Homo sapiens: one gene and its partners. The protein of the gene in region 3 interacts with the protein of the main gene of each other region in a pairwise test. Each region holds a gene or a part of one and is shown on either strand. Other genes may lie near its edges.

Region 1 (7,205 bases), on a different chromosome or scaffold from region 3:
TCTCTTCTCTGGGCCCAACTTTGTGTAAGTATGCAAGTGTGAGAAGCTCACTTGCCTAACCCTTGTTGCAGAGAAGCAGAGGACCAGCTGCAGAACTGGAACAAAGCAGGAGTTTTTTTTTTTCTCAAATGCCTTCTAACATTTTCATAAGTGAACATTCTCTGTTTTCACTGCAACCATTAGTCTCTTGGACTGGAGGAGTTTCTGGCTCTAATTCTTCCAAAATTACATTAGCAATTACAGGAGACTCACATTCTTGAAGGTGAAGTTTGTGCTACCCACAGAACACCCTCTAGCTTGAAAATCACTGTTAGGCTTGGAAATCTTGGAACACAGGACAGCCTAATATGCACCAACTTCTGTGTCTGTGCCACCTAGAAAATAAGGAGGGAGAAGCAAACCTTACAACCAGGCTAAGAAAGCTTCCTGACTGCAAGGGGTAAGCCACCCCTCCTTATAGAAACTCAGTCTCATGAGGAAACAGAGAAATCATTGAGGCCAAGCTCCTTGTTTCACAGATGTAGAAACTAAGGCTCAAGGAGAGGAAGGGATTTGCCCAAAGTGTGTCTGTGGCAGAGCTGGGGCTTACATCCTTATCTCCTGAGTACAGATTTTGTGTTCTTTCCACTACACTAGCTGGAATTGAAACTTGGGCTCTGAATAAGCCTGATTTGGAAGCTGCCCAAATCTGAAAGGAGATGGTTTTCCTGTTCAGCATCTTGAAATTGGCTAGATCTAGAAACGGGGCAGATCCAATCTTTTGCTGCTAAGTGCAGAGAAACCTCTAAAGCTCATGCCTCTAGGTCTTTAAGGCTACAGGGACTCTTCTGGGAGAGATGTTCTCTGGACCTTCCTTTCCTTCCTTTCTGAGGAAGAGACCCCACGATGACCCCATGGTTTCATTCCAAATGCAGATGTGGTTAGACATAGACAAATGGCCTCTTGAGTGGCATTGCCATGAGGATTGGGTTTCTTGGCCATGAGGCATTGTTCTTAAGGGAGGACCTGATAAATCAGGACAAGATTCTCCTGCCTAAGTGTCTGGGGAGCAAGAAGTCAGAGTCAGTAAGAAGGTTTTTAGTGAGACTAGAGAAGGTTGTATTTAAAACTAAGAAACTACCTCAGGTGAAGACATTGTGATGAAGTCTGGAAACAGGCTTCCATTCCTGAAACTTTCCATAAAATTGTGAGAAGGTGGTGAAGGAAGGAAGAAGACCTGTGCCTACATGTAGTCTTTGAGTGGAGCTGCACAGAGCAGAGGAAGTCAACAGGAAGAGCTGGAGGTTTTGGTTCAAGACCACAGTTATGACTCATTTAAGATAACTACATCCTGGTGGGAATGTTGAAAGGACTGGAATATGAAATAGGAGGGTCGAGATTGTTCTAGAAGGATAGCAAGGAGGAAAGGGGGAAGAGTTGGTGGGCATGATTAATAATACATTTGAGAATGGGACTTCTGAGGAAAGACTTTGGGAAGCTGGATTATTTAGCCTATAGAAATAGGGGTTGGTGGGTAACTTAATTTCTTTTCATATATAAGGATTATTATGTATATGTATATTCTTCTCTGTCTACACAAATAGAATAAGAGCTTAAACTGCCACAAGAGGGACATCATTTAATATACCAGAGAACTTCCTAACAGTGAGCAGTGAGGGGCAATAAACATTGGAACATGTTACTATGGAGTTTGCAGAATTTCCTTTCCCAGAGATCTTTTAAAATAGAGTTTACAGAGGTCAGCTGAGAGAGTGAAACTTGCTGCCTCCTCCTCAGCTCCCTCTACTCTCTGTCTCTGCTTCTTTCCTGTTTCTCAATATCTCTCTCTCTCCCTCCTCCTCTTTCCGTGCCCCTCTTCCTCCTTCTCCATTCCCCCATCTCCAAAACTCCTTCCCATTCCTCATTCCCGACTAGCACTGTCCCCATCCCAACCCCCATTTCCTGTACATCCTGACTCCTGGAGGAACCTTCCTGGAGCTGATACTGTTCCTAAGGCCAGGCTGTACGGCTTCCTCTTGTTATCGACATCAAGTCCACCAAACTGGGCAGTAAACATAAAAGCTCCACATTCTTCAACAATAGCCCTTTCTAAAAAGAACCACAAAGTGACCCATAGGTCTAATCACTTGGTAGAGAAATTCTCATCCTTTGGACTCAGCTGAAATGTAACCTCCTTTTTGAAACCTTCTCTGACCTCTTCAGCATTTGGTCCCTACCCACTAAGGTAGCACTTCTACTATCCCATGACTGTGTCTGTTTCCCCACAGACACAGACTGATCTCCTGGAGGGCCACTTATTTCTATATGCTCAAACCTAGCTTTGTAAATGCATATTCACAAAAGGGAGTGGGGGGAGGGGAGAGAAAGCATAAGACAGACGGAGACAGGGAGACAGAGATGTGTGATAAAGGTATCCAACTCTTTAGCAGGGCCTCCCAGAGAGCTGACTTTGTGTCCTCAGAAGTCTGTAGAACTCCTGACAGTACACTCATCACAGGAAATAACTACAAATGTAACACTGAGGCCAGGCGCGGTGGCTCACGCCTGTAATCCCAGCATTTTGGGAGGCTGAGGCAGGCAGATCACCCGAAGTCAGGAGTTTGAGACCAACCTGGCCGACATGGTGAAACCCCGTCTCTACTAAAAATACAAAAATTAGCAGGTCGCGGTGGCACGCGCCTGTAATCCCAGTTACTCCAGAGGCTGAGGCAGGAGAATCGCTTGAACCCGGGAGGTGGAGGTTGCAGTGAGCCGAGATCGTGCCACTGAACTCCAGCCTGGGCAACAGAGCAGGACTCCGTCTCAAAAAAAAAAGTAACACTGAATCCTATTTTTCAGGAAAGAAAGCAGGACCTCCTGGACCCAATGGCCCTCCAGGACCCCCAGGACCTCCAGGACCCCAGGGACCCCCAGGAATTCCAGGGATTCCTGGAATTCCAGGAACAACTGTTATGGGACCACCTGGTCCTCCAGGTCCTCCTGGTCCTCAAGGACCCCCTGGCCTCCAGGGACCTTCTGGTGAGTTCCCCTGTCTCTCCACCCCACCAGGTGCCTTTAAAGTACTTTAGGAGAGCAGGAGTGGGTGATCCTGAGAGCAGTTTCAAACGGTGGAGATGGGGTTGGTGTGCAATAAGGGATGCAGATCTCCTAGCCCAGTGTAAAACTAGGAATTGGACAAGCCAGTAGGGCCTGGCCTGCTCTAGCTTCTTATATCTACCAAACTGTCAAGGACAGGCCACCTGTTCTTGCCCCATCTCAACCCTTCTGTTACAAGCCCTCCCTGACTCTTGGCCTCCCTGTAGTGGACCAGTAAAACTCATATGAGCCAGAGACAGAGGCCCTGGTGGTTCACAGGAGTTCCAGTGGGGAATAGATGTAATCTTCTGTGATTCCCAGCATCTAGCTCCACATGCTGATGTTTGCATAGAAATAGGCTATGGAGTAGAAAGTTGAGGACTGAACAAAATGACAAGCCCTAGGATAGTTTCATCTTGTGAAGTCTGAAGTGCTTTTCCCATAGCAAGTAGTCACTAATGGTCAAGAAGTTAGAAACTTAAGAGTCACTCAGGCTGTGGATGAAGCAAACCCAGGCACCAAGGCTGTCCTGTCCGGGAACCAAGTGCTTCTTGCACTAGATCCTTACCCTACCACACTTGCCATTCAAATGTCATTTCATCCCTTTGCATCTTTCTCCTTAAGCCCTGAAGGGCATCCGAAAGGTATGAATGCAGATCCAAACCTGCCTAATTGGAGTTGACAAGAGTCAGACTGCCTGGGCTAATGTCAGTTGTTATTTCTTTCTCCTGCTCCTCACTCCCCTGCCCTGTATCTTGGGGCTTTAAAGAAATGGACCCTTACAGCTGATTTCTCCAGGGGCAAGAATTCTGCAGCAGGATTCAGATTCTTTAACTTGTACTTCACACAGGGCTCAGCAGTGTTACCATGGCCACAAGAGATGGAGTTAGAGATTTTTTTTCAACCAATCATTCCTTAAATATTGAGCACTTTCTGTATACAAAGAGATATATTGATACATGGTCCCTTTTCTTATAGAGTTTATCTCCTAGAGGAAGAGAGAACAAAGAAACAAGATATTTACAAATAGCAGTGGGCTCTATGAAGAAAATTAATAGAAAGGGAGCAAAACACTAGAGAAGCCAATGCCATTGCCTCAGGGTCACACAGTGATGGGAATGCTCTCTCATTGTTCTCCATGGGTGCCCGGTGGGGCTTGCCTTGGGCTAATATTGGCCAGAGGCAATACTCAGAAGTTTCCCTGCTGGGTGCTGGGCCCACTGAAGATGAAGGTCAGGGCAGGAAACAGAAGGGGTGCACTCTGACTCTTCCTCCAGCTCTGAGCCCTGGAGAATAAAGCTCAGACAGGGCTGGCTGCAGGGAGCATGGCTCACCACCACTAGCTGCTCAGGTGAGGGGAAAAGGAAGTCAAAAGATTATGCCCTCTGATTGTCCTATCCTATTTTGCAGGTGCTGCTGATAAAGCTGGAACTCGAGAAAACCAGGTTGGCTGGGGATTGCTCTCTTCCTGGGTAGGAGGGAAAGCCACAGGCTAGAGCCACCTTTAAATTAGCTTCTTATTAGATTTCCTGAGGCTTTATTTCATGAGAACACCCCGGAGATTCTGACGGTTTTCACTCACAGCCCCCTCCCATCTCTATGAATAGAAAAGCTTTGCCCCAGGGCATGTTTTTAGCTAAGGAAAGGGTGTCTTGCCAGGATCATTTTTCCTCATTCCACAGGAGACCCCAGGTTCACCATAGCCAGGCCCAGTAGTCAGCTGAAATAAGCTGCCAGTCAGACCTATTCACCTGAGCCTCCAACTCCCCAACCACCCCAGACACCTTGCCGGCTCTCAGACCACCTGGGATCCGGAGCTGAAGAGTTGAAGAGTATGTCCTTGAAAAACAGCCAACCAGCTCCAGGCCCAGCCTAGCCTGGGCGTCTGCCTTAATGGCCTGAAGAGCTCCTCCCAGTCTTTGAGCTTCCTAATCTGTCTCTATTGGCAGGTTCTACTGCCTTGCCTTGTCTCATCTCAGCCTCCCTTGCTACAGCTGTGTGGCCACAGTGATAAATCTACACAGCTGCACAGTGCTTGACGGCTTGCAGGGCAATTTTATATCCATCACCTCATTTGATCTTCAGACATCCCTGTGAGAGAGGCCAGACATTCTTATAATCCCCATTTTACAGTTAGGGAAATGAGGCTCAGAGGCATTACATTTGGTTGAGGTCACATAGCTAGGAAGCGGTAGAGCTACAAAATCATATTACCCTCTAGTAGAAATGTAGTCAGTAACATCCCAAGACAGGGGAGAGGGATCAGAATTGGATTACAATAGAAGACTAGAAACCAGGATGGAAACATGGGACTGGTGGCTGAGCAAGCAGCCATTACTCATAGTGACTACTCTCTATCCTTCTCATCCTGCCAGCCAGCTGTGGTGCATCTACAGGGCCAAGGGTCAGCAATTCAAGTCAAGAATGGTAAGAATCAAAATAGGCTCTCTCCCAAAGAGGAGCTTCTCCCCTGCCTCCTCCCCAGCCTCCAAATAATCACCCAGCCTAGTTCCTCCCAGGCCGCTGAGGTACCGTTGGCATACGAAGTCATTCTTTGCTCCATCATGCCCTCTACTGGCTGTCCTGAGCAATTGCTGGCATCAAGACCAGTTGCTACACCCAAATTGCTTTAGAATCACTGATGACGGAGCTGAAAGGGACTTGAGACATCATCTAGCCCAGGCATTCTCAGGGGATGGAGGTTATATCAGAGCCACCATGGAGATATGTGTAGTTAGATTAATATTTTCACAATACAAATTATAGAAAGTAAAACTATGTAAAATTAAATTTTTCTTGTCTGATCTACACAGGTGGGCAGACAGGCTGCATCTCTCAGGGAAGGTGGGGCATGTTAGAATCTCCAGGGAATTTAAGATGCTAGTGTCTATCAAAAAGGAGAACATGTTTAATGGGGTTAAGAAACACTGATTTGTTGTAATCCCTGCATTTAAAAGATGGGGAAACAGAGTCCCAGAGAGATTGGATAATACCATAATAAATCATGCTGTCTCATATTTGTACGATACTTTAGAGTTCTCAGCATACTTTCTTTGTCTTTAATTTCATTCAGTCCTCACAACCACCCTATGAGGTAGGTATGAGCTCCTTTTTACAAGACAGAAAGTGAAGTTCAGAGAGATTAATTAAGTTTCCCAATATTTCTTAGTCAAGTTAGTTTAGGAGCCAGGATTCAAAACTACATCTTTCTGACTCTTTCCTCTCCCCTGTGCTACTTCAGTGATATGTATGTACACTCCACTGAATGATTAGGTTCATTTTCTTCCCCCAAAGAAACATGAACATTCATGAAAGAACAGCACTTTGGAATAATGTCCAGTCCCCAGAGTGCACAAAGCCTAAAATGCGTGAACCCCCAGGAGCCTTGGGAAGCAGCAAGCTAGCCAAGATGCCAGATGCTTACAGAGCTTGGGGTGGAAGGGAGGGGTTGTGAGTACAGAAACGGTAAAGGAAGGTTAAAAAAAACAGCTACATGGGGACAGTTTCTAAGAACTCAGTCAGTCCTGAACTGGCTGTGCTGAGTTTCCTTAATGACTGTATTTAGCTACTTCCCTGACTGCCACCTCCATGTCTGACTTAGTAGCCTCAGAAGTGTAAATAGGAACACAATGGCACCAAAACCCAATTGGTCCTGCTGGGGACCCCAAGGCCCTGAGTGGGCCATGATCCCCACCTGTCCAGGGAGGCCAGAGACAGGCCAAAATAGATTTGTTTGGATATCTAGATGGATAGTGTTTATTCTGTGCTAGCAGCCACTGATTTTGCTCCCACTGCCACATAATAAGATTGTTTCCAGCCCCTCTGGGCCAATCCTCAGAGGTGGTCTGTGCTGACCTTTAGTACTACCAGAAGAAGTGATGGGGGTGGGGTGCAGTGACTCACACCTGTAATCCCAGCACTTTGGGAGGCCGAGGCTGGCGGATCACATGAGGCCAAAAGTTTGAGACCAGCCTGGCCAACATGGTGAAACCCCGTCTCCACAAAAAATACAAAAATTAGCTGGGCATAGTGGCACACACCTGTAATCCCAGCTGCTCGGGAGGCTGAGGCAGGAGAATCACTTGAACCCGGGAGGTGGAGGTTGCAGTGAGCCAAGATCACACCACTGC
Region 2 (8,134 bases), on a different chromosome or scaffold from region 3:
GATTTACTGTCCTTTTTGGGGAAGACCTTAACCTGTTTTTAGTTCAATGGCTTGCATAAACACTTAAAATGAACTATTCGTACTATTTAATTCAACTTAGTTTATCAATCCTTTGCTAAATACTCACTCTACCAGGCGCTTTTCTGGGAAATGGGGAAATAATTCTTATCCAGCTGAAGGGAAACACCACATAGAAGCTGAATGACACAAATGTACAAATAACCAAGTTAGTAAGCTAAAGTTCAGACTCAAACAGAACTCCCTTAGCAAAACTGTCCTGATTTCCTCCCCTCCTGACTCTTCCTACTGAATAACCACTTTCTTCCTGGGCTCCAAACACTTGTGTCAAAGCCCCATGACATGTGTTGCCTTTGCTTTGATATTCACACACATGCCTGTCCCCTCTGCTGGAATTTACGGTGCCGACAAGGCCAGTTTTGTGTTGTGTACTCTTTGTAGGTATGCAATAAATGCTTCTCAGATTTGAGAGCAGTGTCACGCGGGGTGAATATGCTCAATGCTATGAGAATGCTCTGGGTTTGGTACAGAGACTTGTGGAATCTTTATTCAATTTGGGGGCTTGAGGAGGTTTGGAGGAAGATTTGTGAGAGGACAGTTGGGGTGGTGGAGGGGGGAATTCAGGGGAGCAGGAGCAATGGATGTCCAGGACCAAGTCCAAGGTATACTGAAAGGACAGAAGAAACAGGATGGGGGAGTAAGAGACTGCCAAGGAAGGTAGGTGAGGGGTTAGGAAGGCTTGGTGTCAGGCTGTTATGTGTGCACCTAGTTAAGCTGGGAATGGGGAACCGTGGAAGTTGTTTGGGTTTTGAAATGTCTAAGGAGATGAGAACTGAGAACTAGGAGTTGGTGACTGAAATACTCCCCTTCATCCTCTGCTATGGTCAAAAAAGCAAACATTCTATAGAGATGAAGGATAGAAACCAGACTGAGAAAGGTTAAGGGTGAGAGGTAGTGGAAAAACTTAGTCTTTTAATTTGGTTTGTCAGTGACCCAGGAGAGAGACAGAACTTGACAATGATCAGGATCAACAGATTTCCCCAGGAAGGAGGCCATATGCATAAGTGAGGAGAAGAGATGAAAGAGGCAAGGAGGAGAGGGGCTGACCAACAGGGCATGATCCCAGACAGGTGGCATGAGGCCTTCAGAGCCCTGCTGGGGAGGTTGACCTTAGCAGGAGAGGTTGACCTTAGCAGGAAAGCAGGGAAGATAATCTTGTTCCATCAAGGGGGAGAGGTGGAGCTATTCTGAGAGGGTGTCATGGAGATAAGATCCGTTGACAGAATAGGAGTGACAAGTCACAGTGGACGCAATGGGGTTTGCCCATTTAGGAGAGTGGGAATATTCAGGAGCCCCATGTATGGAGACTGTGATACACAGTGAGCAAGAGATTGATAATATGTAGTGGGGCCCTGGGGAGAGGTTATTGAACATGAAGTCATAAGACATCATGCCTTAATTTTGAATATGAGGACAATATTTTTTCTTTATATGATAGTTAAAATTAGACATAACTAGCAACTCAACACTCTGTGTGGCATTTCCTGCATCTCACCTCTCCCCTCCCACTACAGCATAATCCCTCCTCAGTCTGGTTCTCTTTCTTTTGGCCAGGTTCTACCTCCCTTGCTTCCCTAAGCAGGTCTTTCCCCGGAGTCAGTCATCCTGTTGGTCCTGCAATAAGTGGCTTCCAAAAAATGGAATAAATAATCAAATTCTTCTACTCTGACACCCATCTTCTATTTCTTTCTGAAAATGAACTTGGATTAGTTGAATTGCTTTTCACAATTCAATTCAGTTTCAAGGGCTCTACAGCCTCTTCACAATTTCTTGCAAATTTATTTCCATCTACTTGTTTATAAAAGGTATTTGTTTCAGAGACATTGTTCTCCTTTCTCCATCACACTCACATCTTGGCCACCCCTTAGAGCCACTAATTAGCTAGAGCTATTATTTTCTTGTTTGCATTTTAAAAATACAAATAGAGCTCCCATATTATTCAGAATGCAAAGTTGCTATGATGCATATTTGAAGTAATTATCTATATTAAAAGCAGGGGTTTAATTTATTTCATCTTTAGGGGTGAAAGGATGTCACATTTATAATTATATTTATATTCTGACATAATATAATTATAATTCTGTAATTATATTTTGATATACATTGATTTTTAGGACAGTATACAAGATATTCTTAATACAAATGCAGCAAAAGGATATTTATAATTTAATGGCAATATTCTTTTTGGCACCCACAGAGACTCCAACTTTGAAAAATTTAATTGAAATGGAAAGAAAATTAAATTAGCTCTCAATAAACTTTTCCAGATATAACAAAATACTCAGCATCCTGCTTCCCTGCTCCCATGTATGTGCAGGCAGGAGCAAGCCACATGCAAGTAATGCACACAATTTATTTTCTCCTTGAGAAACACGAGTTTATTCCAGGTATCATGAACATACCCTTACAATAGACCCATTCTTCTTGAGGCCTGCCTCCTCACTAGCGATTCCTTCGCCTTGAGTATTAACCCTCCCATTTTCTCCTGCATGACTGTTGCCCTATTAGACACGAGCCAGCTTCTCCTTTTATTCACACCTTTCATTCTGAGCCAGAGCTGCCAGGGTCCTCACCCAGAGGTGGGAGTGGGGCTTAACGCAAACGCCCCCTTCCCTGCTCACCTGGTTCACCTGGCTCTACCCCGGGGTGCACGGTGCCTACCTGGAAGTCCCAGGATGGTGAAATAGGGCCTGCATTCGGTGAAGCCTGAACTCTGCCTCACGCAGCTCCTCCAGAGCCCTTCGTACTGGAACACGGAGGTGACGGGGTTGTCGTACAGGTCCTGGGTGCTCCACATGTCCATCCCGGTGGCCGCGATGCAGCCGGCCAGCCCCAGGATGGACAGGAGGAACGCCACCACTTGGCATGTGGTGGTGGACATGATCCTGGCCGCCCGCCCTGCCGCCTGCGAGAAGCTGCCGCCCTCCTGCTGCCGAAGGTGTGAAGCTAACGCGCTCCTGAGGGGAGCTCTTCTAATCAGATGGTTTCCCTAGGCTCTCAGTATTTGCTCACAGTGTTTTCCTTAGATAGCTCAGTTTCGCTCCTGGTTCAAGGGCATTATTTTTACATTTGTTAGAGAAGCGGGCCCAAGAGGCACTTGTCTGCTCTCCGCAGGCCGGGTGGGTTCAGCGCAGAGCCGTGCCAGGGAGCAGAAGGACTCCCTGCTCCGGGCCAGACCGGCCTCCCTCCAGCTCCGGCTCCTCCGGAGAGCGCCGCCATCTGGAGAAAAGGCTGACGTGTCCCCACCACGGGGAACGTGACTGCAGACCACTTTGGCTGACCTCGCTTAAGATGGCCCCTGGGAAGCACCCACCGTGCTCTGTCTTAAACCAGACTTTTCACATTTTCTCCTCACAACTCATGAACGACTTTTTTCACTTACATCTTTCCATTTTGATCTTACAGAAATGGGTAGGGCAGGCACTATTATCCCCATTTTTTGGGGGTGAGTCAAGAAAAGTACAGATAAGTTAAGGGACTTGTCCCAGTGCCTGGAACCACAGATACTCTAAAAACGGCAGGGGTGGGGCTCCCACCTCAGCTTCCAGTCCAGCGCTCTTTCTCTGTTTCCATATGGAGCAGCAGGGGCAGGCAAAATTGTCCCCACTTTTGAGAACACGAAGCCAAATCCTAGATCTATGCTCTTGGTCCATAAGCATTGGAACTGGGATGAGAGGAAGCCAGGGACCCCGTTGATTTCCATGTCATGCTTTCACTCGTGCCACAAGAACCACATGAGGACTCTGTGGCTGACACAGGAGGTCCCACAAAGGCCAGAGGAGGGACCAGGGTTAGCTGGGCTGAAGTCCTTGGCCTGGTCACGGAGAGGCTTAGGATCTGCTCCTGATGCTGCCCCTAACTTGTCGTGTGCTGGGCAGGTTGGGGGCAAACTCCTAAGCCCTTGTAGGTCACAGGTTCTTCATCCACAACATGTGAGATCTAAACTAGAACACTCCAGAGCCTTTTCAGATCTCATACACTATCTTCTACATTTTGCAGAAAAGTTTTCACTAGAATTGGTCAAAATATTAGGAATTGTATAATCACAGTAGAGAGACTTGGCTGAAGACATCAGGTGTTATGTTTTGTCTATACAACTAAATTTTGCTAGAGAATTGGTTGACGGATATGGGGGCCAGGTATGTCTGGCCTCTGAATCCAGAGACTTTTTAAAAATTTTTTGAGATGGAGTCTTGCTCTGTTGCCCAGACTGGAGTGCAGTGTTGTCATCGGGGTCACTGCAAATTCTGCCTCCTGGGTTCAAGCAATTCTCATGCCTCAGCCTCCAGAGTATTTGGAACTATACATGCATACCACCACACCCGGCTAATTTTTATGTTTTTAGTAGAGACAGGGTTTCACCATGTTGCTTACGCTGGGCTCGAATTCCTGAGCTCAAGTGATCTGCTTATCTTGGCTTCCCAAAGTGCTGGGATTACAGGCGTGACTCACTGTGCCTGGCTTCCAGATATATTTTGTTTTTATTTATTTATTTATTTATTTTGAGAGGGAGTCTCACTCTGTCGCCCAGGCTGGAGTGCAGTGGCGCAATCTTGGCTCACTGCAACCTCCACCTCCTGGGTTCAAGCGATTCTCCTGCCTCAGCCTCCTGACTAGCTGAGATTACAGGCGCCTGCCACCACACCCAGCTAATTTTTGTATTTTAGTAGAGATGGGGTTTCACCATGTTGGTCAGGCTGGCCTCGAACTCCTGACCTCAAATGATCTGCCTGCCTCGGCCTCCCAAAGTGCCAGGATTGCAGGCGTGAGCCACTGTGCCCAGCCCTCCGGAGACATTTTAATGACACTCTCCAAAATCTGGACCTCAAGGCCCTGAAACATACACACACACCCACACACACCCCCACACACCCCCACACTCCCCCCCCACATACATACTCCAATCTTTAACCTTTATAGGTCTTTACAGGTTCTCCAGGAAACGAGCCTCTGTGTCTGGACATTTTGTTATCTTGGGTGCACCCAGCCTCTGCTCCCACTGCATTATTCCCAGCAAACACAGAAAGCAAATAGGGAAGAACTACCTCTAATTTGAATGGAGGCAACACTCCCCTTCACTGCACACCTTACTTTAGGTTCTGTGATCAGTGTTTCTAGTGAAGCATGAGCCAGAAAGCCTAAAATAAGAGGGTAAGCAACAGTTACATGATCTACAGTGAAGGAATGTTGATGGCAGTGTGTCCCTTGAGTTGTTACAAGGCCAATTCTAAAAGGAGGGAAGGGAACAGTTAGAAGTGACACTGGTTTCTGCTGGTGGGCATAGATTGACCAATTAGGTTGAAAACTGTTGTTGGAATAATTCAGGAATGATTCTACCACTGTTTCCATAGACAGAGTCTATCTTACTTTTATTTCAACCAACAGGCAGGCTTTTTAATCCTCATTTTAAAAATTTATTTCATTTAAAAAATTTATTTTACTTTAAGTTCTAGGATACATGTGCAGAACGTGCAGGTTTGTTACATAGGTATACATGTGCCATGGTGGTTTGCTGCACCTATTGACCCATCATCTAGGTTCCCTCCCCTCACCCCCCCGACCCCCGACAGGCCCCAGTATATGTTGTTCCCCTCCCTGTGTCCATGTGTTCTCATTGTTCAGCTCCCACTTATGAGTGAGAACATGTGGTGTATAGTTTTCTGTTTCTGTGTTAGTTTGCTGAGGATGATGGCTTCTAGCTTCATCCATGTTCCTGCAAAGGATATGATCTCATTCCTTTTTATGGCTGCATAGTATTCTATGGTGTATATGTACCACATTTTATCCAGTCTATCATTGATGGGCATTTGGGTTGGTTCCACATCTCTGCTATTATAAATCGTGCTGCAATAAACATATGTGTGCATGTGCTTTTATAGTAGAATGGTTTATATTCCTTTGGGTATATACCCAGTAATGGGATTGCTAGGTCAAATTGTATCCTTTTATTCTTAAAAAGCTCTATTGGTTTGATTTTCAGATGTTCAATTTATGACATTTGTCTAACCTTCCCCCGACAATACATATACATGTGTTAGAATACCACCAAAAACATAGATTGAAGATGGAAAAATAAAAAAATTGTTGATTAAAGTTATCTATTTTTCATCTATGGCAATTCCCCCCCCAGTTTCCCTATGCAAATGTTTTCATGCAGAGTTTCAAAATAGGGAAAAATGTTATTCAGATAATAAGGAATTAAATTTTCTTTCTTGGCTGAAATGGTGACAGTGACACTTTTTTGAAAATAGAAAAAGTTAATTTTAAAGGATAAACTAAGACTATCTCTACCTAGGCAGAATACTGAATGAGAGGAGTGAAATTGTAAATCTACACACTTCTTCTGTGTGAAATAAATACTGATGTGTTTTAAAACACCTGGAAGATAGGATTTTTCACTTCCTGGTAAGTTTTCTGGGCTCTGAGCAGACTACTATTTTAGCCGTATCTGCCAAAAAATGAATGGGGGTCTGCAGAGGAAAATATGACTTTCTCATTTATGGCAATAGGCTTTATTGAAACATATCAATGTATCTCTACCAGATAAGTCCAGGTCTGATTCTGTTTAACAATAATGGGGTTGGTAAACTTTGTTTAATCACCTTTAAAATGGAGCTGAATTTTTGCTGACTTCCTAGGGGAAATCATCCCTGCATTCAGGTTTAAATACGGCCCTGGCAGTGTCATTTCAGGTTGTAAGTTTCCAAGAGCTTATATTATTTTACTGCCATTGGAGAAAACATTTCCACCACTTTTTATAACACTGTCTATGGTAATTAGGCAAAAATGGTGGCATAAATAACAATAGAAAATATTATAGCTAGGAATTAGGAAGAAATAAAATGAATATACTAGTGAGAAAAATAATTGACACATCTATTAATTTTTTCTTCAAAAATATTACCACATATATCCCTAATTTTTAATTTCACCTTTTGGTGTTCATAATAGAAAATTTGGAGAGAATTTGAACAAATTGCTCACAATTTTAAGCCCTAGACAAAATATTTGGCATACTTCCTTCTTATCAATTATCTGTATGTATTTTTTTACATAATTAAAGGATAATATAGTTTGATGTTTTGCTCTTTTCACTTAATTGTATTAGTTTCACCAAAGCTCTTGTAAACATCATTTAATATGAGTGTGTTAGTATTTCATTATATAGAAGTGCTATTATTCACTTATTTTTATATAGTTAGATTGTACCTTCCCCCATTTTTTTGAATAAAAGGCAATGTTATGATGAACATCTTACATATAACTCTTTGTCAGCATTTCTGATGACTCTTTTAGGATAGATTCCTAGGAGTGAAATTAAGTTGTCAAAAACTGTGAAGTTTTAAAAAATCTTTTTTTATACACAACCATATTGCTTTCTATGAATTTTATCCTAACAGCAGTGTTTGAAAGTTCTTATCTCTTTACATCCTAGTCTACATTGTGAATTTGGTAAGTTATATATGTATATGATTACTTGTTTTAACTTGCATCTCTTTAATTACTGAGTTTGAGCCTTTTTGAAAAAAACGAATATGAGTTCATGTCCTTTGCAGGGACATGGATGAAGCTAGAAACAACCATTCTCAGCAAACTAACACAGGAGCAGAAAACCAAACACCTCATGTTCTCACTCGTAAGTGGGAGTTGAACAATGAGAACATATGGGCACAGGGAGGGGAACATCACACACCTGGGCCTGTTAGGGGGGTGGGTGGCACGGGGAGGGATAGCATTAGGAGAAATACCTAATGTAGATGGTTAATGGGTGCAGCAAACCACTATGGCACATGTATACCTATGTAACAAACCTGCACGTTCTGCACATGTATCCCAGAACTTAAAGTATAATAATAATAAAAAATATTCATCATCAAAAATAGAAAAGAAAAAAAACAAAAAACCCAACAAGTTTGTATGAAGCATTTGATTTTTGTTCTTTTCTTGAATTGTCAGTTTGTATTCCTTCCTCATTGATTTACTAGAATTTTAGCACTTTTTCTATCAGTTTATCTGAGCTATGTATTTATTAAGGATTTTAATACATTGCTGTAAT
Region 3 (7,205 bases):
AATAACTGGGACTTATGGAACTGCATAGGGCCCAACTGAGCTATTGCAAAAGAGTATGATTGGGTATGGGAGGGGATGGTCAAACCCTCAAGGAAAGTATTCCACACCAGGCTTACAGAGAGGTATTTGCTGCCAGGTTTCTATGATTTGAAAAGCCATGCTTCCCCCAAGGCCGAATGACTATATTTCTCAGCCTCTCTTGTAAATAGGTGTAGGTGTGACCATGTCACATTTCATTAAAAGAAAAGGAGATTCATTCTTCCCCACCTCCTTTCTCCACCCTACTGCTTGAATCATGGATGAGATGGCTGGAGCTCTAGCAGCCTTTTGTTTCCTGAAGATGACAGCCAAACCCAAGAGATGGCAAAGAAATGAGCTAGAAAGTGTCTGCATCTCTGACAATTTCATGGAACCTCCATACCTCTCTCAGGCTACCTACTTCCAGACTTCTTTGAAAAGAGAGAAAAATAAATGATCTTACTTAAGCCCCTATCATTTGAAGATGTTCTCTTATACACAATCAATCCTAATCCTAACCAGAACACTAGCCAACCAGTCTACCCCATCCCCTGCCTTGTTCTACCCTTACCTTAGGTCACAGGGAATATTCTCCTCCCCGTTGCCTGTATTGACTTAAATCCTGCCCATCCTTTGGAGGATGGATCAGATTCTACCTCCCACCAGAGATTTCCCATCCGCTTCCTCCCTGAACTCAGACGCTGTCTGCCTGCCTCCCTTTGGGCACCTGGCCTGCTCTGCCTTCCAAGGGAGTGATTCACCCTTCCATATCTATCTCCTGACTCTTCGACCAGGCTCGGGACCATCAAGGCAAGGCCCATGCATTCCAGATCCTTGTATTCCCTGGGCCGGAGAGGCACTGGATACAATATCATAACGAATATCCCCACACTAAGCCTCTCTTACCTCTGCCCACACGAGGCAGATAAGGAGGGGGTGCCAGAAAGTATACAAACACATTTAGAAAAACGAGAAGGCAGGCGGAGTCAAAGTCAGTTAGTTAAAAATCTAAAACTATTTCTAATATTAAGATGTAGCCTGGGGGCAAGATCTGGTGTGTCTCTTTCAAACTACACAACCTAGATGTTAGACTGCCTCATGGCACGATGCCAGGAGGCCCCATTCATGTAGAAAACAACATGAGTGGCAACCCCCAGAGAGAGGTGAAGTGTCATGGTCATGCACCAGAAAAATGAGTCCTTTCAGAAAAAAATACCAAGTCACATGGCGCAGTGGCTCACACCTCTAATCCCAGCACTTTGGGAGGTGAGGTGGGTGGATCTCCTGAGGTCAGGAGTTCGAGACCAGCCTGCCCAACATGATGAAACCCCTCTCTACTAAAAATACAAAAATTAGCCAGGCGTGGTGTTGGGCGCCTATAATCCCAGCTACTCGGGAGGCTGAGGCAGGAAAATCGCTTGAACCCAGGAGGTGGAGGTTGTAGTCAGCCGAGATTGCACCACTATTTATTTTTTCACACTTGCAACATATTCTTCACAAATCGATGTCAATAACAAATTACTTTTGATTACTTAACAAGTATTTTTTTTCAAATATACTTTCTAAGAGCAAATACAGACAAGTTAAATGGTTCGCAATGAGCATAGTTCATTTGTAAAGACAGTATAATGTTTTAAAAAGTACACATTTTTTTCAGCTTATTGTCTGCAGCCACAATTGTTAAACTCAATCAAAGAGGCCCTGGAGGATTCGCCACTTAAGGCTGAAGTCGTAGCAAGTGCTGCCACGTTGGGGAAGATAGCGGCAGAGATAACCACTACTGGGGAAGTGTAAATGGAAATTTCAAATTTAGATTAAGCCTGAGTGGCGTGAAAACAAACCCAGCATGTTCAGGTGCAGTGTCCAGATGTTTTCAAAATGCCCTGATTGTGAGAGCTGAGAAGGGAGATGTGGAAAACAGACACTCTGGGGTCCTCACGGAAAGCAACGAGGCAGATTTGAAACCCACACTAAGGAGGCATTGTAAATGAACTCAAGAACATGAGCTTGGCACAGAAGGAACAAGTTGAGAGATAAGAAGTTTCCTGATTAAAATAACCCTAGTGCCTCTTTGAGATCTGCTTCTAGCACCAACTGACAGCTATTTCCAACGGCAGAAGACACCAAATGTCAATCTGTAACATGCTACAGGTCAATATTGCTTTCTTTCCTGCAGATGGTTTAAGCACAACTTAGCAACTCCTCTGCCGCCTCGTTTCTGCTGAAACTTCGCCGGGTTTTAACACGCCTGCCAAAACTGCCCCCTTCCGGGCCCAAGAGTCCAGGATTCTGTGCCAAGCCGCGTGGCCAGATGCCACTTGGGGATGGCGCCTGTGAGCACCAAAGCCTGCCCTTTTCGGGCTGAGTCACTACTTGTAACCACCAGGTGTCAGTAGCGAGTACGGAGACTCCCATCCGGAGTGCTCCGGGAACTTCAGCCAGACCCTAAAGGGGGAGAAACCGGATGCTGTGGCTTTGGGGACAAGCAGTGCTACGGTCACATTCTCAGGCACTCATGAGTATTTCATTTACTCAGTTGCCAACTCACCATGCAAACCCACCACGTAATTTCTGGGATGGCTTTAATTCAATGCCTTTCACACACTCAGAGACAAGATTAAGCACTGTTCTCACTCCAATAGGACTGGGACCTTTTCTCTGCTCCCTCCCCAACCCAGAAGGTAAAAACATAAAGCAGGGTTTTCTACTCCTTGCGTATCTTCTCCATGTAAATTACCAAATTATTATTTTAGCAGTTTCTATTTGTACTGTGGTTCAAGGAATTTGGTTTATAATGCTTCAGCTGGGGACATGCTTGGGTATTACTGGGTACTGAGCTGTAAGAGGGAAAGTCCAGCAAAGCAACTGGATTATGCAAAGCCAGGACCAAAGGCCACTTCACTGCCTGTTTTACTGAACTGGATCTAAACTGGTTTCTCTCGTCTGGTGTAGCATCTTGAACATATATACTGGATCTATGAGTAGCTCCAGCAACATTTAAAGCTGTATTTCCGTGGCCTTTTAAACCCAGGATGTTAGGAAAGCTCTGCTGTATCTCTAGGTCCTTCCAGCCTGAGGACACATCTTCTGGAACAAAAGATCATGTGGATCCAGGTCCACGGGCTCTTAACATCAATCGCTATGGCCTACCCAGCCACCAAAACAGCTCATCCTGTTTACCTCCACCTGTCTGCATCCAAACACACAGGGCTCCTGGCTGGGTGTTCCTTTCCCTCTGGGTGCCTTGGGTACCTAGTTGGTGCTTCTGCTGCCAATTATCCCTTAATTTGACCCTCATGAAGCCTGGCTTCCATATCTCACAAGCAAAGATGCTGAGGACAGAGGAGAAATACGATCTTCTGGATTAAGGACCCCAAGGCTTAGCTTAGGGTTTTGCAAATAGCTTCAAGTCCCCATCTTGCAACAAGGAAACATTCAAAGGTTTTGATGCTAGGTGGCATCACTGAGGCCCAAGACCTGGAAAGGCAGCCAGTCTTGTGTCCATGTAACTGACGGTGCAGTGAGCTAGCCCCACTGTCACTGCAGCAGAAAGGGGCAGGACATTTCTGAATAGAGACAGCCACCAAACCAAAGATACACGTTTGATCCAATGTCCCAAGGGGGTCTGCCAAAGGCTTAGCTATCATACCACCTTCACAGCTCCCAGGTCGATATTTTTTTCAATCACAAAAAGCATTATCCTAAGTGATCAGGAGGGCACTAAGGGCATGTCTCTAGGTAGAGTGAATCACAATGATGCCCAGGATCTCAGCTTCCCCAGCGAGATCACCACCCCTCCCATTTTCCCTGGACTCATGGCTCCCTGTCACATCCCACCCCACCCCAGCAACGACATTCTGGCTTGTGTCTTCCAATAAGCGTTTCCAGCTCTGGGCTGAGAAACGTGTTACAGGCGTCTGAGGACAAGCTCATGGAGCACAAAACCAGCCTCACCGTTTGGTGATGATGAGAAACAGTGGTGGACATTTCCTGAGGAAGAGGTGCTACAGTTCTGCCAGAGATCAGTTGCGTGTCCATTGCCCACGATCCATTGCTAGAGAGAATCAGATAGATATCCTGAGTCAGGGAGGGAGGGAGGAGTGAAGGAAAAGGGGAAGGAGAAAGGCCCAGGGATGGCGAAAAGCACCCGCATCCACCTAGCCACACCGCCCACCCCTGCATGGTAAGAGCCAACGTTTTATGACTTAAAAGCACCTTGTAAATGGAGAAGTTCCACATGCACACAGAAACGATTATGTGCAGAGATGTTTACTATAGTAGAAGGAGCCATGAACTCAACCTTAGACACCTGCATTCAAGCCTTCTCTCCTCCCAGCATCTCGGGATCATTCCCCAAGCCCGCCTCTCTCAGTCTATTTCCTTGTTTATAGCTCCTATCAGTCTGATATCATCATCACCAGGCACAATGGAGATACTGTGAAGATGCTTGTAAATGTTAAACTAAGTCACAAATCCCCAACATAATTATTTCTCACAGAGACTAGAAAATCATGCTTACAGGCCGGGCACGGTGGCTCACACCTGTAATCCCAGCACTTTGGGAGGCAGAGGTGGGCGGATCATGAGGTCAGGAGTTTGAGACAAGCCTGGCCAACATAGTGAAACCCCGTCTCTACTAAAAATACAAAAAAAAAAAAAATTAGCCAGGCGTGGTGGCGGGCACCTGTAATCCCAGGCTGAGGCAGGAGAATGGCTTGAACCCGGAAGGCAGAGGTTGCAGTAAGCCAAGATCATGGCACTGCACTCCAGCCCGGGTGACAGGCTGGAGACTCCATCTCAAAAAAAAAAAAAAAAAGAAAAGAAAAGAAAAGAAAACGAAAAAGAAAATCATGCTTACAATGTGCCTTAAATTAAGAAGTGAAAGCCACCACTGGAAAACTGCCTGAATGTCTGCTCATCTTCATCGCCAAGAAAATAACTTTAAGATCTAATGGGCTGGACAGTTTTGTAACAGAAGTTACTCTGATGGCCTGTTCCTACCAGTGGAAGCTTTACTAACAATGTGTTGTGTTCATGCCATAAAGCCGACATGGGACCTGTGAACTCTTTTCCAGAAAAGCCCATTTTAACTTTCCAATTTCAAGTCCTAAAAGGGTGTTTTATAAATTAATTCACCCATCTGACTATGGTTTGGAGAAAAAAAAATCATAAATACTCCTCTTCTTCAACGAGGCTGCATCAAGAAAAAAAAAAGTTAAACAATCTTGTCAAATGAAGGTCGGGGACCCTAGATCGGCTCTGAAGTTACTTGGCTTAAATAGAGACCTGCGCAGCTAACCCAGCCCAGCGCTCGCTTGGTTCCTATCACTGAATCTGCTCTCGTTTTCTCAAAGCAACTGGAAGGGGGCAGATTGCCAGAAACTTCCCTGGGACGTCTGAGACTTCCAACTGTCTGCAAATAACACAGTCCTGAACCAGCAGGAGCACGGGCTGGGAACCCAGATGGGGAAGGGCGGGCCGCGCAGGGAGCCTCCCCGCCAGGCACTCACGCTGACGATCGTGGAGACGAACAGCAGCACCAGCACCGCGACGTGGAGGACGATGATACTCAGCAACAGGAGGAGCATTCTGGCGGCAAGTTCTGCTCAGCGGAGTTTCTGCCTGCGAGGAGAGCGCTGGGCGTGAGGCCGAACGCACTGGGCCGAGCGACGGAGGCGCGCGCAGAGGGAGGGTCCCGCGCACTAGCGGAAGGCCCGGCCTGGCCCAGCGCCCGCAGCCCGACCGCCCGCGCGGGTCAGGAGCCTTCGCGCCGCCTGCCGCCGAGAGGGGGCAGCAGCCGCCTGCAGGACCAGCGCCCAGTGCCCAGCGCCCAGCCGGGCCCGCCTGCAACGGAACATCTTTTGCTTTTGGAAACAAAACAAGCGGTTCGCACGTCTAAAACCACCCAGGGAACGGAGGGGTTTCCAGAAAATATGAGCAGAGGCCACTGCACGCTTCCACCCACCCCAAGCACCTCCCGGCGACCTCCCTGGAAGGTGAGAGGTCACGTTCTCCGAGACCCCGGTTCAGATGGTGAATTCCCCTATGGGGTGGAGGTAGGGGTGAGGGGAGTAGGTGCCCAGATTTCCGTCTGAGACCTGGAGACAGCCGTGGCATGCGGTGGGGGAGACAGCGGCGAGGAGGCTGGTTTCCCAGACCCCAGTGCTCTCCGCATTCCGTTTGTCTCCAAGTTTCCACCCAACTCTGCCAGCGTAGAGGAACGGTCCTGGCCCCAGCTCAGCCTCGCGCAGACTCTGGCGGCTCCGGAGAGGTGGTGCAGAGCCAGAGTAGTGTGGAAAGAAAAGAATGGCTCGAGAGGGTTGCCCGGACCCTGCGCTTCCCGTCCACCGCGCGCTTCCCCAGGCAGCCCCTGGGGTCAGGGGGCATTCTGCTCTTGCGCTAGACCCACGTGCTCGCCTAGGGGTCCAGTCTGCACCCCAGGCACTCAAAGCCAGGACACGAACCCCAACAAGCCTGAGCTCCGGTCTGGGTGCGGTGGGACAGGAGCCCAGGAGCCTGGACCGAAGGGAGTAGATGTCCAGCGGACGGGAGAGAGAGACAGAGGGTAAAAGGCTGAGTCCGAGAATTTCAGCCGGTCAGAGCCGGCAGGACATTTATCCCAAGTAATGCGGTCCTCGCCCCTCATTTTAAACTTTGGGGGAACTGAAGGCTGGGATGACCTGTTAGAGGACATGCATGGCTGTGAAAGATCTGGCTGAGACTCTGGGGACCATTTTAGGCAGAGTCTTGGGCCAGGGAGACAACGTTTCAATAACCCAGTTTGGAAAGTACCCAATCCCAGGCCCCTCTGTTCCTCTCCACAAGCATCACATTCAAAGAAACTCTGGAATGCACTGGAAGAAATAAACAAGGATTTCTGATGACTCCCAGAGGGTTTGAATTAAGCCGATGGCAGGAGGCTGGGAACTGGGGAACCACAGGAGTCCAACACTCTCGGGATGTCCGCCACAGGGACTGTTTTGCCAGTGTGTCCCAGAGTCAACGCCTCTTCAGCAAGGCGAGAACTGGGCCGCCCTTATCCGCTATCCAGACACCAGCACCATCACCCTTGCCCTGTAAGGTCTTATAGACCATAAAGGCTCTCCTCGTTGTATTACTCCAAGACCCATTGGAGGGAAACAGGACACACAGGGGACCCTGTGCCCCTAAACAGAAGCCCCAGGGAG
Region 4 (8,181 bases), on a different chromosome or scaffold from region 3:
GGTCAACCACATCTCCATAGCTATGGGCCTTACAAGCATTAACTGTCTATCATTTGCATCTTCAGACTGATATTCAGAACAGTTTCAGGATTCTCACACTAGCCTAGAGAACAATTTTTTAAATAATTCCATCAACATATTGATATGGGAGAGGGGCAGGGAAGTGCTAAGTAGAGAAGGGCAGGGTCCCTGGCGAGGTTCCACCCTCGGCCTTTGCCCACAAACCCAGGTGAGGACAGGCACTCCTGTTTTCATGCCAAATGTTGCATTTCCAAGCCAGCCATGCCCCTCCTCCTGTGCCTATAAAAACCCTGATACCCTAGTGGGTATACACACACAAGTGGCTGGATGTCAAGAGGAACACACTGGCAGAAGAACACACCAACAGTTGCTGGCAGACCATCGATGGCAGAACAAAGCAGATACCAAAGGAAATTCAGCTGAGGGTGGTTGGAGGAGAGCCAGGCTGCTGAGCAGCCCTACTCCAGAGAAGACCACCTTCCCACTCCATCCCCGTTCTGGCTCCCTGTCCATCTGTTGATAACTACTATCACCACTCAATAAAACCTTGCACTCACTCTCCAAGCCCACATATGATCTGATTTTTCTGGGACACTTGGGCAAGAACCCTGGGATACAGAAAGCCCTCTGTCCTTGCGATAAGGTAGAGGGTCTAACTGAGCTCATTAAAGCAAGGTGCCTGCGGACGGCTAAGCTGAAAGAGCACATTGTAACATACACCCATTTGGGCTTCGGGAGCTGTAAACACTCAACCCTAGATGCTGCCATGGAGTCGGAGCCCACGCTCCCCATGACCTGCCCGTCTGCATGCTTCCCTTAGGGGTTTGAGCTGCGGGGCACCAAAGAAGTGAGCCACACCCCCATCACGCACCCTGCAAGGGGGATAAGGGAAAACTCCCCTCGTTTCAATATGTTAAAGCTTATTCACCCCATGAGAGCCATTTGGTTGGTAGGCTATTAATTATTGCCTCAATTTCAGAGCCTGTTATTGGTCTATTCAGGGATTCAACTTCTTCCTGGTTTAGTCTTGGGAGGGTGCATGTGTCCAGGAATTTATCCATTTCTTCTAGATTTTCTAGTTTATTTGTGTAGAGGTGTTTATAGTATTTTCTGATGGTAGTTTGTATTTCTGTGGGATTGGTGGTGATATTCCCTTTATCATTTTTTATTGCTTCTATTTGATTCTTCTCTCTTTTCTTCTTTATTAGTCTTGCTAGCAGTCTATCAATTTTGTTGATCTTTTCAGAAAACCAGCTCCTGGATTCATTAATTTTTTGAAGAGTTTTTTGTGTCTCTATCTCCTTCAGTTCTGCTCTGATCTTAGTTATTTCTTGCCTTCTGCTAGCTTTTGAATGTGTTTGCTCTTGCTTCTCTAGTTCTTTTAATTGTGATGTTAGGGTGTCAATTTTAGATCTTTCCTGCTTTCTCTTGTGGGTATTTAGTGCTATAAATTTCCCTCTACACACTGCTTTAAATGTGTCCCAGAGATTCTGGTATGTTGTGTCTTTGTTCTCGTTGGTTTCAAAGAACATCTTTATTTCTGCCTTCATTTCTTTATGTACGCAGTAGTCATTCAGGAGCAGGTTGTTCAGTTTCCATGTAGTTGAGTGGTTTTGAGTCAGTTTCTTAATCCTGAGTAAAATGCTATTCTTAACATCAGTTCTGTTCCATTGGTCTATTCACCTTGTTACTAGGCTTATTACTAGGACTATGTAGTATGCTTCCTCACTGTTCTATTTGAACATTCTAGGAGAATGAAAACACCATAGAGGAAGGTGGTTTTTTCTGTTCTGTCCATTGATGCAATCCAAGCACCTAGAACACAGCCTGGCACAGAAGAAGCACTCAAACTGTGGTATTTCAATGAAAAGTGAGGAATATTTTTCATGTGGAATTTTTTAAAGGAATGTTGTGCCCTACACCTTTTCAGTAAGGAGATTTTCTGTGAAGTACTACGCGAGGCCTGCTGTGTGCATGGCGAGATCAGCAGAGGCAGAGACCAAGAGAGGCAGAAACCTGGCAGAGCTGCTGAGGATGGTGTAGAAAGAGACTCCCCCATGCTTAGTCATCCCATCATGCCCATTGTCATGTGTAGCCTCCAGTTATACAAAGCTAGAGATGCTCAGCCTCATCCCCATTTGAGATAATTGCATTCTTTTGCCCTATTCATCATCACTGAATGGTGAGTCCCAGCAATTCTGATATCAAGAGCACCAGGAAATAACCATTTGTTTGTATTTCACTTGGAAGGTAGGGTCTCACACCAGGTTTGGGGATTTACTGTTCAAGTCCAGATGACCAGTAAAGCAAGTTCCTGGAAGTAATAATATAGCAGTTAAGAGCACAGTCCCAGCCAGGCACAGTGGCTCACGCCTGTAATCCCAGCACTTTGGGAGGCTGAGGCGAGCAGATCACGAGGTCAGGAGTCGAGACCATCCTGGCTAACACAGTGAAACCCCGTCTCTACTAAAAATATAAAAAATTAAACAGGCGTTGTGGCGGGCGCCTGTAGTCCCGGCTACTTGGGAGGCTGAGGCAGGAGGATGGCGTGACCCCGGGAGGCGGAGCTTGCAGTGAGCAGAGATCCCGCCACTGCACCCCAGCCTGAGTAACAGAGCAAGACTCCGTCAAAAAAAAAAAAAAAAAAAACGATCACAGAGCACAGTCCCTGAATTAAGATTACCTGGATTCAAATCTAGACTTCATTACTTTCTAGGGTGTGTGACAGGGTAAGTTACTTAACCTCTCTGTAATTTAGGTTATCAGCCAAAAGACAGAAACCTTCTGTTATTTTAGCAGAGAATACTTGCTAGAAAGAGTCATTACCTGTGTATTAAAGAACTGCAAAGGCATAAAGAAAACACTGAAATAATACAGACATAGAAACTGCATGAATCAGCCACAGCCCAGTCACTACTAACTCCCTAAGCAATCCCTGGCCTTTAGTTTCCCCACCTGTAAAATGCTGAAGTTGGGGGGAAAAATCGTTTCACTTTCATTCCGGTGGCGTGATACGAGATTCTAAGAAACAGGGAGAAAATTCCGTGAGTGGAGCCAATAACCAAGTCAAACATCAGGGGGGTCTATGAACACTGCTCCAAGGAATCTCTCTCTGGATAACCAGACCTTGTGCCCTAGCCCCAGCCCGTCATCTCCACTGCTAGAGAAAAAAAATACAGTTAGTCTGTCCAAGGCTGTTAGAGTCCTCCAACATATAAGACGCATTTCCATTTTACTAGCTTCATGGTCTGCTTGGGGTGGGGATGGCGGGGAGATCGTATCCTTGAAGTAGGCACTAGGACTGTGAGTCACTTGCCTGTCTAGAGCACCAGGACTGTTTGCAAAGGGCTGAGGAGATTTCCATCAATGGAAAAGAGCATGAATTTAGAGTAAACATAGATTACACTTAGAGATCAGAGATCAATCTAGAGATAAAATACACTTTTCTCTAAAGGGGGTGGGAGAAGATGTTGGACAAGAAATACCAGATTTTCTTAATGGTTCATTTATGTCAGGCTCTATGGTGGGGACTTTTATGTTATTTGACTTAATCCTCACAACAATTCTGAAAAATCTTTTTTCAAATTTTATGAGAAAGTGAACTGGATATTTAACTGATTTTCTCACGAATTCCTTCTGAGGCTCAGAAGTGTGAAAGAAGCCCAAATGACCAAGGTTCTTTAACAATTTGGTCAAAACAGGTCATAGACCCAGAGGAAGGTCTGGATCCTGGAAGTTTTCTTAAGCAAAGACAGTGCTTGTTGTGGATATGAAGATGTTGACTAAGCTGGGCACAGTGGCTCACACCTGTAATCCCAGCTTTGGGAGGCCAAGGCAGGTGGATCACCTGAGATCAGGAGTTCGAGACCAGCCTGACCAACATGGTGAAATCCTGTCTCTAGTAAAAATACAAAAATTAGACAGGCATGGTGGTGGGCACCCATAGTCCCAGCTACTGGGGAGGCTGAGGCAGGAGAATCACTTGAACCTGGGAGGTGGAGGTTACAGTGAGCTGAGACTGCACCATTGCACTCCAGCCTGAGCAACAAGAGCAAAAAACTCCATCTCAAAAAAAAAAAAAGATGTTGACCAAATGGCAGACTCTTGCCATGAAGCAAGCCCAGACCTCAGTGCCAAGAGATGTGAATTAGATTCCTGCCTCTTCCACAGACTAGACATGTGACTGGGGGCAGATTCCTTCAGCAATATCACCTCATTTGGAGAAGAACTGGACTAAAATACCCTCCAAGTAGTTTATGAGTTATTTAAATCTCCCAGGCTTAGGTTTGCTCCTCTCTTAGGGGATAGCCTTGCCACCCTTCAGGAAATGGAGACTGTATATGGAGCATGTTGTGCCGCCAGCTGCTGCATGTCCCAGAGCCATCTTAAACCCTACCCTTCTGAACAATGGCTAGTCTACAAGAAGCCTTAAAAGGGATGTGAAAGTGGCAACAGTGTCCCCTCAACAACAAATACTTCCCCAAATATGAGCTTGTGTGGAGCCTGATGACTCTGCCTCTGAGGCCAATCCACTGGCATCTTTCCCAAGATGTGCCTGGACTTCCCTGAGCATGAGGCCAAAGATGGAGAATGGAAACACCCAAAAGAAGTAACAAGGAGACACGGAATTTTCCACAGGTTGCTTTCAGCTTACCAAGAGCCTGGAAAGTGAGAGAATAGATTCTCCAAAATTCAAAACTAACATTACTATTATCAATATTTATTGTCTACTTTTTGTAAACTCTTTGCATCTTTTTTCTTTAATTCTCCCAACACCCACAGAGTGGAATTATTATTATCCATCCACCATTTATTTAATAGACAAGAAAACTCAGGCTAAGCAAAACTAGATGACTTAAATAATTCTATGTAGGAGTAGGGAAAATGAATTTTAACTGGGACCGTACAAATCACTAGTCTGCACAAAGGTCTTTTTCTCATGTGTCACTTCTATCTTGTGTCATTTTGCCAGACCTCAGAATTTAGAAAGAGGAAGCAGAGGCACTTTTTATATATCAACTGTCTGTAACTACAGCAAAATTCACATCCTGTGTAATCATAAATACTGCTCTAAGAAAGGGACAGGAAGTCTCAGAGGCTGGAGAGCAGAGCACCAAGATCGTTCTGGCAGGAACAGCCAGTGGGAGGTTCCAGCTGAGCGCTCCCCAGAGGTGAGCTGATCCCCAGCCACAGCACACAGGACCAGGCTGCGAGAACAGGTAGACACCTTGGTTTAGATCATGACTTTTGGGGAAGATTGTGTGCTTTTGAAAAGACAGCCAGGGAATTGGATTATCATCCTGTCTCTGATTCTGACCACCTGTGTGAGTTGGAGCGTCAGCTCAGTCCCCTTTTTGGGTCTCAGTTTACTCACTTGTCAAATAAGAAAATTGGGTAAAACCATTCTTAGGTTTCCCTCATTGAGGTGATTTTCCTCAATGTTCTGCATTCTCCTGGTGTGTCACTCAGTCTTACAGAGTCTACTCTCAACAAATACTGTGCAATTAGACTGAATCTTGCATTAGAACCCCATGGTCCTACTCTAATTCTGTAATACAGAAAATTGCTGGGCAGAGCTGTTGACCTCCATGTCATGATTTATCTTCAAAGCACGGATTTTAGAGCTGTCTTGAAAGCTGTGGGTCCCTCCAGTCTATCTCCTCAAGGCGAATGTGGAAGGACAAAGCATCCTCTCAGACTGTGGTGTTTGGAGATGATAGCATCAGTCTGGAGACTTTTGTGAAACATAAAGAATCTTGGTTATATAGGATTCCTTCTAAAAGTAGCAACGTGTATCTAAATTCAAGTGTCATAGATTTAAATGTAATAATTCCACTTCCATACATCACTGTGAGATAATTAAATGCAGGAGGTATCACAAAAGTGCAAAGATGTTCATTATTGCATTGTTCATAGTGGCAAAAAGAAAAAATAGAAACCACCTAAATAGTCATGAACATGTGATTGATTAAATGAATCTAGAGACCTCCATTTATTTAAATATACCATTTGGCTTTTTGGTTGTAGTAAAATATGCTTAAAATAATTGTAGCCTTTTAACCATGTGTTTTTTTGTTGTTTTTTGTTTGTTTGTTTGTTTGTTTTTTAATTGAGAAAGAGTTTTGCTCAGTCACCCAGGCTAGAGTGCGTGATCTCGGCTTACTGCAACCACTGTCTTCCAGGTTCAAGCGATTCTCCCATCTCAGCCTCCTGAGTAGCTGGGATTACAGGCACTCACCATCATGCCTGGCTAATTTTTGTATTTTTTTAGTAGAGACGGGGTTTCACCATGTTGGCCACGCTGGTCTTGAATTCCTGACCTCAGGTGATCTGCCCGCCTCGGCCTCCCAAAGTGCTAGGATTACAGGCATGAGCCGCTGCACCCAGCCTTAACCATTTTTAGGTGTACAGTTCAGTGGCATTAAGCACATTCACACCATTGTGCAACCATCACCACCACCCAACTCCAGAACTTTCTTGTCTTCCCAAACTGGAACTCCGTGCCCATTAAACAATAGCTTTCCATTCCCCTCTCCCGCCAGCCCCTGGCAACCACCATTCTACTTTCAGTGAATTTGACTCTTCTAGGTGCCTCACATAAGTAGAATCATACAATATTTGTCCTTTTGTGACTGGATTATTTCACTTGCCATATTGTCTTCAAGGTTCATCCATGTTGTGCCATGTATCAGAATCTATCATTTGCTTTTAAATTTAGGCTTTTTATTATTTCTATTCATCGGTCAAAGATGTCTACAGAATAATGTTGAGTACAAAAAGAACAGTTATAAAATGGCATGGATAGAATGACTATTTCCGTAGAATTGTGAATGTCTGTGAACATATATAAAGAGGAGAGAGATAAAGTGACAGATGGGAAGAGAGAATGTAAAGAATATGTGCATAGGAAACAAGAGTGATCGGGTGGCAGTTGAAAGTTAAGGAGCTAATTTGTTTTCTTCTTCAAACTGTATTCCCTTGTAATGGTGGTACTTTATGCACTCTTTCAAACAGAACAAACAGTTAAGAAATAACAAAGGAAAATAAATGTTCATGGTATCAGATAGGCTATAGCCTGAAAGTATCAATTAAACTTTCGAGTCCTAGCTTCAGGCTGAGAATCAAGCATTTTCTGCAGTCCTTAGGTATGAGATTCGAAAAATAAAGAAAGGAACCCAGAACTCAGGAGGCTGGTGACGAAGACTAGTAGGAAGGAGTCTAGTTGGTATATTTGGGCTATTGAGCCACACAGAGCAAGGTAAAAGCCAAGTTTCTACAACATGAAAGCAAGTTGGGAAAAAGAAATCTTCAACCTATATTCCCTAAGATCAGCAATGTCCCTGGGAGAGGATATGGAACTGATGAGTGGCAGCCAATGCTTCAACAATAGGGGAGGAAGAATAGAGAGGATGAGAATCAGTTGTAGCTAGCCGGGCAAGAACAAACCTACAGGGATATAGAAGAGCTCTGGTGTTAGATGGCCTGTGCCCAAATCTTGCCTCCACTACCTGCTAGATAAGCAATCTTGCACAAGCTATTTCACCTCTCCAAGCCTCATTTTTCTTATCTTCAAAGTTCAGCACCCATCTCTGAGACTGCAGATTAAATGAGACTGTCACAAAGCTCTTAATAGAATGCCACATTCATAGTACGTGCCCAATCAATGTTAGCAATGATTATCATTTTATCATGAACTACTGTTTGATTCTGGAACCTAGAATTTCTCTAAGCCTGACACTTTTTCTCCTTCTCTGGCTTTAAAGATGTGCTGGAAGGCTCACCCTGACTCCACTGCAGGGATTCAGCTTCAACATTATTCCCCTCATAGGACATGTAACCTCACCCACACTTCTACCCAGATTTCAAAATTCCAAGAAATGAAAACTATCTCCTTAAACAAAGAGAACTTTAGGTTTAATAATTCTTCAGATAAAGTATCTCATGCCCGGAGAGCATGAGAAACTAGACTAAGGCACAGATCTAGGAGTAGAAATAAAATGGAGGTCCAAACATGGATCGACTATTATGGAACACCTGATAAAACTCAGAGAGTTACAACAAAAGACACTCACGTGTGTCATTCAAATCCTCACAAGAGTCCTTCAGGATAGTGTCATTATCCTTATTTTACAGATAAGGAAACTGGGGATGAATGAGGGA

The links.
Region 1: the proteins of PMP22 (region 3) and EDA interact in binary tests that used the Homo sapiens proteins (3 or more experiments, as listed by UniProt).
Region 2: the proteins of PMP22 (region 3) and CLDN18 interact in binary tests that used the Homo sapiens proteins (3 or more experiments, as listed by UniProt).
Region 4: the proteins of PMP22 (region 3) and MS4A7 interact in binary tests that used the Homo sapiens proteins (3 or more experiments, as listed by UniProt).

What each region holds. Positions count from the first base shown.
Region 1 is NC_000023.11:70,025,019-70,032,223, forward strand, and holds part of EDA (ectodysplasin-A), read left to right. Parts: intron 1-2,838; coding exon 2,839-3,018; intron 3,019-4,485; coding exon 4,486-4,520; intron 4,521-5,450; coding exon 5,451-5,502; intron 5,503-7,205. UniProt on the Homo sapiens protein: Cytokine which is involved in epithelial-mesenchymal signaling during morphogenesis of ectodermal organs. Functions as a ligand activating the DEATH-domain containing receptors EDAR and EDA2R. May also play a role in cell adhesion.
Region 2 is NC_000003.12:138,005,051-138,013,184, reverse strand, and holds the start of CLDN18 (claudin-18), read right to left. Parts: upstream 3,021-8,134; 5' UTR 2,960-3,020; coding exon 2,740-2,959; intron 1-2,739. UniProt on the Homo sapiens protein: Involved in alveolar fluid homeostasis via regulation of alveolar epithelial tight junction composition and therefore ion transport and solute permeability, potentially via downstream regulation of the actin cytoskeleton organization and beta-2-adrenergic signaling.
Region 3 is NC_000017.11:15,255,122-15,262,326, forward strand, and holds part of PMP22 (peripheral myelin protein 22), read right to left. Parts: intron 6,015-7,205; exon of another isoform or gene 5,838-6,014; intron 5,700-5,837; exon of another isoform or gene 5,641-5,699; 5' UTR 5,607-5,640; coding exon 5,529-5,606; intron 4,073-5,528; coding exon 3,973-4,072; intron 1-3,972. UniProt on the Homo sapiens protein: Might be involved in growth regulation, and in myelinization in the peripheral nervous system.
Region 4 is NC_000011.10:60,373,425-60,381,605, forward strand, and holds the start of MS4A7 (membrane-spanning 4-domains subfamily A member 7), read left to right. Parts: upstream 1-5,107; 5' UTR 5,108-5,240; intron 5,241-8,181. UniProt on the Homo sapiens protein: May be involved in signal transduction as a component of a multimeric receptor complex.